Linked DNA regions of Homo sapiens. The protein of the gene in region 1 interacts with the protein of each later gene in a pairwise test. Each region holds a gene or a part of one and is shown in the gene's direction. Other genes may lie near its edges.

What was found. The genes of interacting proteins can lie anywhere in the genome.
Region 2: the proteins of ZC4H2 (region 1) and ZNF223 interact in binary tests that used the Homo sapiens proteins (3 or more experiments, as listed by UniProt).

What each region holds. Positions count from the first base shown.
Region 1 is NC_000023.11:64,917,418-64,924,455, reverse strand, and holds part of ZC4H2 (zinc finger C4H2 domain-containing protein), read left to right. Parts: intron 1-2,212; exon of another isoform or gene 2,213-2,467; coding exon 2,468-2,639; intron 2,640-4,202; coding exon 4,203-4,375; intron 4,376-5,251; coding exon 5,252-5,414; intron 5,415-6,559; coding exon 6,560-6,673; coding exon of another isoform or gene 6,674-6,692; 3' UTR 6,693-7,038. UniProt on the Homo sapiens protein: Plays a role in interneurons differentiation. Involved in neuronal development and in neuromuscular junction formation.
Region 2 is NC_000019.10:44,062,019-44,068,520, forward strand, and holds the end of ZNF223 (zinc finger protein 223), read left to right. Parts: intron 1-1,299; exon of another isoform or gene 1,300-1,548; intron 1,549-4,045; coding exon 4,046-5,259; 3' UTR 5,260-5,981; downstream 5,982-6,502. UniProt on the Homo sapiens protein: May be involved in transcriptional regulation.

The sequences.
Region 1 (7,038 bases):
TTGCTGTCTATATACTGTCTTGTTCTCTGCTCTATCCCTAGTACCTAGTACAATGAATGCCTGGCACATGATAAGTATTCAATAAATAATTATTGACTGAATATATATTGAAACCCTCTATAATTAATACATAGTAAGTGCTCAATAAATATAGTTAAAATACAGTTGTTATTATTGTCCAAAAGCAAATAGTTAATCAGAGGCAGAACCAGGATTTATAATTGAAGTCTGAGTCTAAAGCGCATGCTTCTTTTATGATATGACTTTGTCTGCAGAAATAGGTTCTTGGCCCAGCACTGCCCTAACTGGTTGTATGACACTTAGGGTGAGACACTATACTACTCTGAATCTTAGTTTTCCCATCGGTAAAATGGTTACAGGAGCAGGCAAAGTTCAGGTTTATCTTCACGTAACCTAGAAAAGGAGGAGAATAGAAGTCTAGATAGATGGGGATATAAGCAAATAAGTAATTAACCAATACAAATCAGTATCTTCCCTCTGCAAGACAGTTGATGAGCTATAACAAGAACCCTTGATGTTTTTATGCCCTTCAGCCTGGTAACCCTGTTCAAAGGCAATATAGAGTAGTGGATGGTATGGATGGTATGTAGGCTTTGGTGTTAGAGAGCCCTGGTTCAAATCCCAACATCCAATTTACTAGCTCTGTGGTACTGGGCAAGTTACCACCCTGAACCTCACTCAATTCCCTTCTCTACAAATGGGATAACACCCACCTTTTAACCCATTTCTAAGGTTACAAAAAAAAAAAAAATACAATAACATGAAAAGATGTTTTCTTAGTATAGAAAGAGAAACTTCTCCCACCATCCTACCCACCTAACAGTTCTTTCTGTAGTTCTGTGCCATTGAAGGCTACCTCTTGAGGCAAGAGGCACAGGCAATGTCAAGAAAAGAGAGACTGAAGACAAGCAGGCTGATGGCAGAAGCCAGAGTCCAGTGTGTGGAGTTGGATCACCCATAGGATAGACTGGGGCAGAGGGGAAGATCAGCTACTGAGGGAGAAGAAAGGAGACTACAAATCTGAGTAAGGGGATAATGGCTAGGCAGATCCTGAGAAGCATGGTAGGGAGCCAGTGGGAAGACAACAACATGCCTTAGAGGGTACCCCTTTCAAAACTTTGTAGCCCTTTCCCAGAGGCAGGCTTCAAATTATGTTATTAAAGGCCCTTGAAACTGTGTTTCTTCCAAATCTTTTTCTTATTTAGTCACATCCATGTATGTTTTGAAATTGTAATCTTAGTGTGTACACTTTTTCAGCGAGTATCTTATCTTCAACATTTTCTATGTCACAAGTCTTCAGTGGCTGTCAAATATCCTAATTTTGCTGAAAGCCCAGAAAGTACACCTCTGTGTATTAACTTTTTGCTTCCTTGAATTACCTCCTTAAAATATATTCCCAAGTATAGGATTCCTGAGCCACACGGTATACAATTGGGATTTAATGACCAAAACCAGGTTTTTCTTTTTCTAAGAAAGAAATTACCCATAATATCCTTTCCCCTTCCTTTTCTGGAACTGATAAACACACCCTCTAGAGTTGTGCTGTCTAATATGACAGCCAGTAGCCACACGTGGCTGTTTAAATTTTAAGTTTGATTAAATAAAATTCAAAACTCAGTTCCTCAGTAGCACTGGCCACATCACAAGTGCTCAGTAGCCATATGTGCATAGTGGCTATTATACTGGACAGCACAGATACAAAACATTTCCATCACTGTAGTAAGTTTATTGGACAGTGCTTACTTAGAGTTTCTCAAGAGATCATTTTTGGTTTCTTGGGTGGGAGTTCTTTGTGTTCAGGACTTTCCTGGGCATTGAGAGGCTATTTAGCATCTCTGGCCCATGTCCACTAAATGCCAGTAACACATTTCCTTGAGTCAATCTAACAGCCAAAACACTCCATATTTGCAAATGCCCCATAAGGGAACAAAATTAACCCCATTCGAGACCCACTGAGCTTTTAGAGGGAAACATCTCCTAACTTTTTCTTGAGACAAGGTCTTGCTCTGTCACCTAGGTTGGAGTGCAGTAGTGCAATCATAGCTTAAGCAATCCTCCTGCCTTATCCTCCTGAGTAGTTGAGACTACTGGCATGTACCACCATGTGTGGCTAATTCTTTCTTTCTTTCTTTCTTTTTCTTTTTCTTTTTCTTTTTTTTTTCTTTTTTCTTTTTCTTTTTTTTTTTTGTAGATATAAGGTCTCACTATGTTGCCCATGCTGGTTTCAAACTCCTGGGCTCAAGTGATCCTCCTGCCTCTGTCTTCCAAATTGCTGAGATTACTGGCATGAGCCATTGCACCTGGCCTTCTTTTTTGAGATGGCCTCAGGTTGGCTCTGCCTGGAGAGGGGGAAGCTTGTAAAGATGGCTTAGAAAAAAAGTCCTGGCTCCATTTCTATTTTCTCCCTTCTTTTGCTGGCCTGTTTCCTGCTTTTTGCAAATTGCAGGAACAAGACCCTGCAGATGGAGAAGATCAAGGCTCGTTTGAAGGCTGAGTTTGAGGCACTTGAGTCAGAGGAAAGGCACCTGAAGGAATACAAGCAGGAGATGGACCTTCTGCTACAGGAGAAGATGGCCCATGTGGAGGAACTCCGACTGATCCACGCTGACATCAATGTGGTACGTGGCTGCCTGGAGCCTATCTCTAAAGCCTTTGAGAAAGAGGTAGTGGTGAATGATAGGGCCTTTCCTTGAGATGTGGCTTAGGCCTAGCTCGGGGAGCAGGCATCAGTGCAGGCTGTGGTAGAGCAGAAGAATTCAGGAGTTCTGAGATCCAGCCCTGGCTCTGTCACTAACTGACTATATATCACTGGACAAGTCCCTTCTCTCTGGGCCTCATTTTCCCTCTCTGCACTATAAGGGGGACTCAGTACCCTCTAAATGTACTGATTTGATGTGCTCTCATTCTGGGATTCTGGGAGTTGAGAGCTAGCCTTGGGGAAAAGCAGAGCAGGCAGCTGCCTCTGGAATGTAGTTTAAAGCACTCCAAGCTTTCAGTCAGACCAAACAAATCATTTCTGCCTGCTACCAAAGTGGAGCTTCCTCATTGATATATCCTTTGGAAACTCTTGGAACACAGAATATGAACTGTCTGCTAAGGTGGTAAGCTCCCCTCTTTGGAATTATTCAAGCAGCATCTTAATGGACACTTGTATGAGCTACTGTACTGATGATTCCTTCACAAGGAAGGAGGTTGGCAGTGCTGACCAGTAAGGTCTTTTCAAACCCTTATCACCCATAACCATGAAGAATATATTTTTAAAATTTACTTTCAAAGGAACTAAGTTTATATTTCTGGAAAACTCATTTCTGTGGCAATACTCATTTTCTGATGTTGTCAGACCTAGGATCATAAAGGAAATATGAATGAGGTTTGGACAGTAAGCAATTGGGATTTTCTGTGTTAGAGATCGCAGAATTCTAGATCTCATAAAGTGTTGACAGTTTGGCTGCCAGCTAACCAATGATACAGGGCCAGTTAAATGAGGAAGATATTTGCCAGAAGGGCTAAGAATATAAGCCAGTGGATCTCAAACTTGAGCATGCATCAAAGCCACTTTGAGAGCCTAAGACACATATTGCTAGACTCCACCCCTGATTTTCTGATTTTGTATGTCTGAGGTGAACCTAAGAATATGCATTTCTGAGTTCCCAGGTGATGCTGATGCTGCTGATCCCTTGGCCACATTTTGAGAATCACTGATCTAGGAGAAAAGACTGCTGGCCTGGGAGGCGGAAGCCCTAAGTCTTTATGCAGGATTTGATACTAAGAAGTATTTCCCCAGGAAAGTCCCTTTTTCTCTTTGAGCCTCAGTTTTCTATAAAATGGGAGTAAGGTGGACTAAATGAGCTCTGAAGGACATTCCAGCTCTAAGATACTATATTTGAACAATACCATTTATTTAGCAGTAAATATTAATTTAGCCCATTTACTGAGTGCTTTATATGAATCCTATCATTACATCTTCACCAAGATTGCATGAGTTAAGCACTAGAATATCACCATTATACCGATGAAGAAACTGAGACTTGACCAGAGTTACATGGAGAGGGCATGGGAGATCAAGGACTTGAATATAGACTGAACAAGTTCTGGAGCTTGTGCTATTATTCACTCAGCTATAGATCCTCTCTGAGAACCTTAGGATCTTTTCTCTGTGCCTATCCCACTCTATGTTCCAGATGGAAAACACTATCAAACAATCTGAGAATGACCTAAACAAGCTGCTAGAGTCTACAAGGAGGCTGCATGATGAGTATAAGCCACTGAAAGAACATGTGGATGCCCTGCGCATGACTCTGGGCCTGCAGAGGCTCCCTGACTTGTGTGAAGAAGAGGAGAAGCTTTCCTTGGAGTAAGCTACCTGCCCCCAGTCCCTACAACATACCCTCCCTCCGACCCACATACATACTTACATACCTACACACACACGGGCAGGTATACATACACAAAGCCTAGCCTGAAAGTCAGAGTGCCTAGTTTTAGTCCCAGGCCTTTCAGTGGCTTACTCACTGTGTGATCTTGGGCAAGTCTCTGTGCCAGCTTGTTAAAACAGAAGGAGGATTATTAAACTGGATGAATTACTAGATGAATTAGAACAACTACTAGGTGGCTTTTTAAATTCTTTGTGTGATATTGACAATACAAGACTATGTCTATAACTCTTAAGAGATCATTTCCCAAGTCAGGGTCTAGAAGGCGATATCTAGAAACCTCTAAAAACAAAAAAGACTGAGCTTTCCTGGTCTTCAGGAAGTGGCCTGGGACTTACTTCATCTCCTGGCTCAGAGTTAAGAACTAGGCTTGCCTTGCAGAGAGACAGAATTTGACCTGGTAGAGGAAATCATTTCCTAAAGGTAGAGCAAGGTGTCTGTGGAGTTTGTGAGCTTCCTACTCTTAGAGATATGTCACCAGAGGCCTTAGGACACTTAATAGGAATACTCAAAAGAGCATGAGATAGCAGATAGGACTGAATACCCTTTAAGGATCTTGCTAGCCCTAAGATTTCTTGGTCTTCTTGGCCTATCAGAGCTAAGGACAAAGAGGATTACCCTTCTCATCAGACATTGGGCCTAGTACCCAGGGACAATAGCCTTGTGCTTGGGAAGGTGTGGGGACCTTCTAGAATGAGCCACAGCTCAACCCTTGGTTGTATGGCATGGAGTCTTTAAGAGGAGCAAGGTTCTCATTGCTTTCAGAATGATCTAGCCAGTGTCTCTCATCTCCAAAGTTACTTTGAGAAGCAGAAAGCAGAATGGCAGACAGAACCTCAGGAGCCCCCCATCCCTGAGTCCCTGGCCGCTGCAGCCGCTGCCGCCCAACAGCTCCAAGTGGCTAGGAAGCAGGATACTCGGCAGACGGCCACCTTCAGGCAGCAGCCCCCACCTATGAAGGTAAGTGAGCTGGGTAATGGTTGTGGAGGAAGCAAAGTATCCTCCCATGGAAGGGCCGTGGAAGGCTAGTTCTGGGTCTTTGGCTTTATTTATGCTGGGCCTTCTTTTAATGGCCTTTGCTTGTGACACAGTGGAAGGGGTGACATGGGTGTGCTGTGTTGGACACACACAGCACAGGTTTTGTTGCCCCATGTTCCCAGAGGTGTTAGAATGCAGGGAGATTTTCAGGCCCTGCTAGAGTGCAATTCTAAAAGTTAGAAATGACTCTTACACAAAGATGTAATGAGCATGTATCATAAATGAGGGAACCAGCAGGATTATAAAGCTGGTTCCAGGAGCATTTGGAACAAATATCTATATAGTCAAGAAAGGAGAGGAAGGCTGAAACAAATTTGCAAAGTTAGATGCAAAACTGGTTTACATCCCACAGGACAATAAAACTGTAACTTTATAGTTACTTTTTCTTCCAAACAGAAGTAATTTGCATCTCTACTGGGCAAAAGCCATTTGCAGCTTATCAGTGTAACATCACAGAGCCTGGGTCCTAATCAATTGGTAAATAGTCAAACAAAGAGACATTCTTCTAGAGCAGGGGTCATCAAATTACAGCCTACAGGTCAAATCTAATCTGTTCCCTGTTTTCGTTAAAGTTTTATTGGCCCACATGCATGTCTGTGTTTGCAAGCTATTGCAAACAACATGCATGCAAGCTATTGTCTATCACTTCTTTCATGCAAAACAGAATTGAGTAGTTGCAGCAAGTTTATATGATGTAAAAAGTCTAAAGTATTTGCTGTCCTGGCCTTTACAGAAAATGTTTGTTGACCCCTGTTCTAGAAAATTAAATAGTCCTTAAGTGGGCCTGTTAGACAATGCTTCATTATAATGACGAAAAGATGTGTAGTTCTCATTTTGCCTTACTTTCTAGTTTTGTATACTTTTTCTCAACACCATTCTCTGAACTGGGTTATGTCCTTCCTTCCCATCTTCCATGGCATCCAAGAATACTTGAGTCTACTCACTGATTATTGCTCTCTTCTGATGGGAAATCACTTTGCTTTCTGGGCCCCTGGGGAATCAGAAGTCTAAGTTGTTGCCTGGAAGAATCTGACTACTAACTTTCTTTTTCCTGTGTCCCTCACCAGGCCTGCTTGTCATGTCACCAGCAAATTCACCGGAATGCACCTATATGCCCTCTTTGCAAGGCCAAGAGTCGGTCCCGGAACCCCAAAAAGCCGAAACGGAAGCAGGATGAATAAAGAAAGGGAGAGCACATGAAGCTTTGCTAATTATAACCCCTCACCTTGACCAGAGTCATTGATGTCCTGATGTGAAACAACCCTTGCCCAACCCCACGAAGTCTCCTATTTAATGTGATGGAAGCACAACCCCTCTCTCACTTTGCTCCTATTTCTTTCTGCTCTTGGGATTTCTGGTTTAGGAAGAGATGTGGTTCAGGTGCTAAACAGTGTGTCTGATGATCCCTTCTCTCCCACTCACATTTCAACCCCTGCCCTTGTTTGGAGCTAAGGGAAGGGCAAAAGGCTCAGATATGATTCTCTATCTCTTGTGCCTGAGGCCTGGAGCCTAAGGAGCTGTAGGGTCTGAGGGGCAGGGGAGGCCC
Region 2 (6,502 bases), on another chromosome or scaffold:
TTTGTTTATGACTGCATCTTCAGTGCCTAGAATAGTCCTAGTACATGGAGGGATCTGTAAATATTTGGTATCCTGATGAATGAATTAATGGATGGGGGGACTTCACTGTCTGTAGGAATCATGGAGCTAGCTAATAAGTAATACATGAACCAGAGTGTATGAAATATATTAGTCCCTTGGAAGCCATAGGGGTTTGATTTCAGGACCCCACATGGATACCGAAAGCCAGAGATGTTCAAGTTCCTGATATATGTGAAGTCTTTGCCTATAACCTATGTACATCCTCCCATATACTTTAAATCATGTCTAGACCAGTTATAATACCAAATGCAATGCCTACCTGTCACTTCATTCACAAGGATTCAACATAGGACTCAGTGTGTGAGAAATTCCAGTTTTGCTCTTTGGAACTGGAATTTTTTTCCCTAAATATTTTTTATGTCCTGTTGGTTGAATCCATGGATGCCAAACCCATGGATATGGAGGGCTGATTATATATTGCAGAACAGATTTTTTTTTTCTCTGTGGATGGCTGCTTATCCATTTTCAACTTTCTTAGGTTTCCTTGACATGATTGGTTTTATGTGTGTGCAGTTGACCCATGTCCTGTGGAAACTTCTAAGCATAGCATTTTTTTTTTCATGACCACACTGAGTAATATGCCTTCCCTGGGACCTACCCTGGAGCTTTCCATAGGGAGCATATTTATATCTGAGAAGAAAGTCTTTTTGAATGAGGATTTGCAGCTAGCTTTCCTTTGAGAGATTTACCCATCTGCAGCCCATTTGCCTTTTCCAAAGTCGGCCCACACTTCACTGCCTCCAGTTCCTCCTTCCTTCCCTTAGAGGGGGAAGAATGAGGATGAGAGGACACAAGTTATGTAGCTGAATGTTGACTCTGTTTCTGGTCATCTTTCTTCAAAAATGTGCGTATTTCCCTTTTCTTTACATTATGCAAATTTAATTGTCAAAAAGTTAAAGGACAGGCTTTTTGTTTATTTTTATAGATTTAGTGCTATATTTTGAACTAGTAAGCTTTATGACCTGGAAGGAATTGGGGAATTACTTACTCAAAATAGAAACATCCTGAGACCCCTTCCCATCTCCTTAAAGACCTCTTATTTATAAGTCACAGTGTATTAAATATATCCATGTACCTATTAGACAGGATTGTTCCCTTGACCATCTTTGCGGGCAGGAACTTCAGGGTTTGTTTCACTCAGCCCACCGCTGTCGATTCCTTGCAGGAGGGAGTGTGCAAGCGAGCAAGTGCAGGAACCGGAGCAAATGAATGCTGGAATTGGCTGGTCGCTCCTCTCTGGCGAGAGCAGGCTCTGTTATGCACGCCCCACAGCAGTGTCCAAGCATGTTACAACCCATGCTGTTTCAGCTCTGCCATCTGGGGATGGCCAAGTGCCAATCAGCTCAGTGGAGCATCAGGGTAGCAGCCCCTGCCCTCTTGGCACCTGGGTTCTTGTCCAGCATCCAGGAAGAACCAGGTCACATGAACTGTGTGAAAGGTGATGAACGCAGAAGACTTTATTGAGTGGTGAGTGGTTCTCAGCAGAAAAGGAGGCTGGAAAGGGGCTGGGAAGGGGATCAACATGTTCCTGAAGCCAGGCCATTTGTGGCTGGGCCCCTCTCCAAAGCAGCACCTTCTGAAGTTAGCCACATCTATCCATACTTTCCGACACTCAGTTGCTTCTCTGCTCACCGCTCAGCGACTTGTATCCTTGCCACTCAGCTGCTTGTGTTGCTCTGCCAGCTGAAATCTTTTATGGTCACAGGATAGTGGCAGGCAGGCCAAAAAAAGCAACATTGGGGCAGAAAAATGGGGTCATCTGTTTTCACTTAGGGCTGAGGTTCTAGGCTTAAGGGTGGAGTTTGGCTAGGTATACTGATGGGTACCCACTTACCTATTAATATTTTCCAAGTTTCAACCTTTGGAACTTAACTCTCCATCAGAAAAATTTACCTAATTCAGGACTTGGTAATATCCTGACAAAGTTTTGAACATTTTGTGAGCATGAACCATAATAAGAAACACCTCTTTCAGTATAACCTGGACAGTTTTCATGCATGTAGGTGTATGTGAGTGACTTTAGCTGACATTTCATGTAACGACACCTTTCCTGCTTGTCTCCACACTGTGATAATTTTCATTCTGGCTCCTTTCTATAAATGTCTATTGAAGGTTTTAACTTTATTTCAGCTCACTGATGTGTAGTCTTGAATATAAAAACAGTTAAAAAGGCCTGTTTATCTACATCATAGGCTTTCTTTTCATTCCAAGTGATTCTTCACATCATTGATTGTCTGATGAAGAGCATCCTCCTTTGTGGACCTCTGGAAGGACAGCCTTTCAGATTCCCCTCAGAACTGCAGTTGTCTGTCTCTGTACTCTTTCAGATAACCAACTTATCATCCATATCAAAACAGAAAAATAAGATTAAGTATTTTATATGTGTCATGCAAAATTCTTGTATAGGAATACTTTCGATTTGTAGATATAAACATTCTAAGGTGTTTGATGTTTAGTATCATGAAGGGTTAAACTAAAAAGTTTAATGGGACATTTTACAGAGAACTGCTCTCACTTCACTCCAAGTGCAAATTCGGCAGTTTTTCAAAACTACCTTCACATTCAATAATTTCCTAGAAAGACCCTCAGAACTCACTGGATGTATTTATTCTCACAGTTACTGATTTTTACAAGCAAAAGATGCATATTATAGTTAACCAAGGGGGAAAAACCAAATAAGACAGAGTCCAGTGAAGTACCAAATGTGGATCTCCTATTGTATTCTCACAGTAGAGTCGGGCATGTTACATACCCAAAATTAGCATGTGACTTAGACACAAGGAACCACCAATCAGGGAAACTCAACTGAGTGCTGGGATCCAAGTAATTATTGGGGCTCCATTACATAGCCATAATTGGTTGGTTGATTCCTGTGTGGTTATTTAGTCTTTTGGTCCACTGGTTCCCTGTGACCTAAAGACCTACATTAAATCACATCGTTATTTTTTCTGACATGGGGAATGCCACCTGCCATTTCCCATCCCCCAAAGCTGTGGCTAGTCACAACCCTAAATTATATTATTTCACTGTCAAGAGTTACCCAAGATTTGCCCCCAAGCAAACAGAGAGACTCTCCTCAGGCATGCCCCTTCAAGATTCTACAGATTACCTCTCAGATACTGAGGACAAAGTCCTGACCTCTTTTTAGTTAGGTTAACTCCTTTTCTTATTTTTAAAAATGTTTTTTAAGCCATCTTAAACTGAAAGGAAGGTTAACTTCTTTATAAGGATATATAATATACAGGCAAATATACGAAGTATTTATTATGTTACTGCTTTCCCTTAGAGTTCCTTTTGATTCATATTTCATTACGTACATAATAGTTTAGTAATTTATCATGTAAAATTTCAGACTGAGTTGGAAATTTTAAAAACAGTAACAGGTTAAATGTATGTGTCATATTAATTTTTTATTAAACCTTTTATTTCTATCAATGATTTTTTATTTGAAATGTGGTATGTTTTTTTCTTTCTTTTCTTTTTTTTTTTTTTTTTTGAGGCAGAGTCTCACTGTGTCGCCCAGGCTGGAGTGCAGTGGCACGATCTCGGCTTGCTGCAACCTGCGCCTCCTGGGTTCAAGCAATTCTCCTGCCTCAGCCTCCCAAGTATCTGGGATTATAGGTGTGTGCCACCACACCTAGCTGATTTTTGTATTTTTAATAGAGACGGGGTTTCACTATGTTGGTCAGGCTGGTCCCGAATTCCTGACCTCAAGTGATCTGCCTGCCTCAGCTTCCCAAAGTGCCTTGGTCTCCCAAAGTGCTGGGATTATGGGTGTGAGCCACCGTCCCCAGTGACATGGTATGGTTTTAGATTACTCTCATGCAAACCAGAAACCAGGGTGCACTTGGAAAACACAAACTGAACATTCGTTGAAGTTTCATACCATGTCCTAAGTGTGAACTCTTAAAAACACTGAACAGGGCATAGCTTGTCCTGATCTCTTAATTTTGTATTCTGATAGGAGGCAAGATCCAACCTGAGATGAAGACTTTTCCAGAAGCAGGACCACATGAAGGGTGGTCCTGCCAGCAGATCTGGGAAGAAATTGCAAGTGATTTAACCAGGCCTCAAGACTCTACCATAAAGAGCTCTCAGTTCTTTGAACAGGGTGATGCCCACTCCCAGGTTGAGGAAGGACTATCTATAATGCACACAGGACAGAAACCTTCCAATTGTGGGAAGTGTAAACAATCCTTCAGTGATATGTCCATCTTTGATCTTCCTCAGCAAATACGCTCAGCAGAGAAGTCTCATTCCTGTGATGAGTGTGGAAAAAGCTTCTGTTACATCTCAGCGCTTCATATTCATCAGAGAGTCCACCTGGGAGAGAAACTCTTTAAGTGTGACGTGTGTGGTAAGGAATTCAGTCAGAGTTTACATCTGCAAACTCATCAGAGAGTCCATACTGGAGAGAAACCTTTCAAATGTGAACAATGTGGGAGAGGCTTCAGATGTAGATCAGCACTTACAGTTCATTGCAAATTACACATGGGAGAGAAACATTATAATTGTGAGGCATGTGGGAGGGCCTTCATTCATGATTTCCAGCTTCAGAAACATCAGAGAATTCACACAGGGGAGAAGCCATTCAAATGTGAGATATGTAGTGTGAGCTTCCGTCTTAGGTCAAGTCTTAATAGGCATTGTGTGGTCCACACAGGAAAGAAACCAAACAGCACTGGGGAATATGGAAAAGGCTTCATTCGTAGGCTGGATTTGTGTAAGCATCAGACGATCCACACAGGAGAGAAACCATATAATTGTAAAGAATGTGGGAAGAGCTTCAGACGGTCCTCCTATCTTTTGATCCATCAGCGAGTCCACACTGGAGAAAAGCCATACAAATGTGACAAGTGTGGGAAGAGCTACATTACTAAGTCAGGTCTTGACTTGCACCATAGAGCCCACACAGGAGAGAGACCTTATAACTGTGATGACTGTGGGAAGAGCTTTAGACAGGCCTCAAGTATTTTGAATCATAAGAGACTCCATTGCCGAAAAAAACCATTCAAATGTGAGGATTGTGGAAAGAAGCTTGTATACCGGTCATACCGTAAAGACCAACAAAAAAACCACAGTGGAGAAAATCCATCCAAATGTGAAGACTGTGGGAAGCGCTACAAGAGGCGCTTGAATCTTGATATAATTTTATCATTATTTTTAAATGACACGTAAGTGTTGTACATATTTATGGGGTACAGTGTGATATTTAAATATATGTATATGATGTATAATGATCAAATCAGTGTAATTAGCACATTTATCACCTCAATTATCTCTTTTTTGTGTTGAGAAAATTAAAAATTCATTGTTCCAGCAGTTTGAAAATAAATTGTTGTCGATGATAGTCACCTTTAGTGCTGCAGAACAGCAGAACTTCTTCCTCTTATCTACCTGTACTTTTGCATCCATTAGCCAACCTTTGGCCATCCCACCTATCCCTTACCCTTCCCTGCCTCTAGAGCCACTGTTCTCACTACTTCTAAGAAATCAGCTTTTTAAGCTTCCCCATGTGATTGAGGACAGTTTGAAGTTAGTGTTTCAGCCATAGCTCAGCATACCCCAGTGGTCGTGGGACTGTCAGAGCAGAGAATGCTGCAGGGTTTCTAACAGAAGTTTGACAATTAGTTATTATTCAGGAGACAGGTCTTAGTATAAGAGTTTGTTCACACACTTTCAAAACACTAATGATGAACATGTCAAAATTGATGACCACTAGAATGTCAGCCACATGTGTCTTTGTATTTTTGCTGCATCCTTACATTGCTTGAGTCTGGAAGATTGAGGCTGCACTGACCTATGGTAGTGCTACTGCACTCCAGCCAGGGCAACAGAGTGAGACCCTGTCTCCAAAAAAAAAAATTAAATAAATACCTTTCTTTGTTTCTAGACAAGCATCTCTCTGTGTTTCTGGAATTTTTTTTTTGAGTGTACATACATAGTGTGTTACAATTATATTCTTATTTTCTTCAGCAGTGAATATTTGCTGGTATTTTTCTATTTTATAATTGTATGCATTATTTTTAGATTTCTCAGTGAACATCAGAAACCCCATCTCTACAAGAAATACAATAATTAGCCAGTTGTGTTGGTGTATGTCTGTAGTCCCAGCTGGAGACTACTGGAGAGGCTGAAGTGGGAGGATCGCTTCAACCCAGGAGGCAGATATATATACAAATGGAATAGAAGTGAGAGTCCATAAAGAAACCCATACATCTAAGGCCACTTGATTTTCAAGAAGGATCCAAGATTACTTTATGGAGACAGAATAGTCTCTTCGACCAATACTGCTGGGACACCTATACACAGACACACAACATAATGAAGTTAGATTGTACCTCACCCTACACTTAAAAGTTAACTCAAAATTCATCAGTGACCTAATGTAACAGCTAAACTATAAAAGTATTAGAAGAAA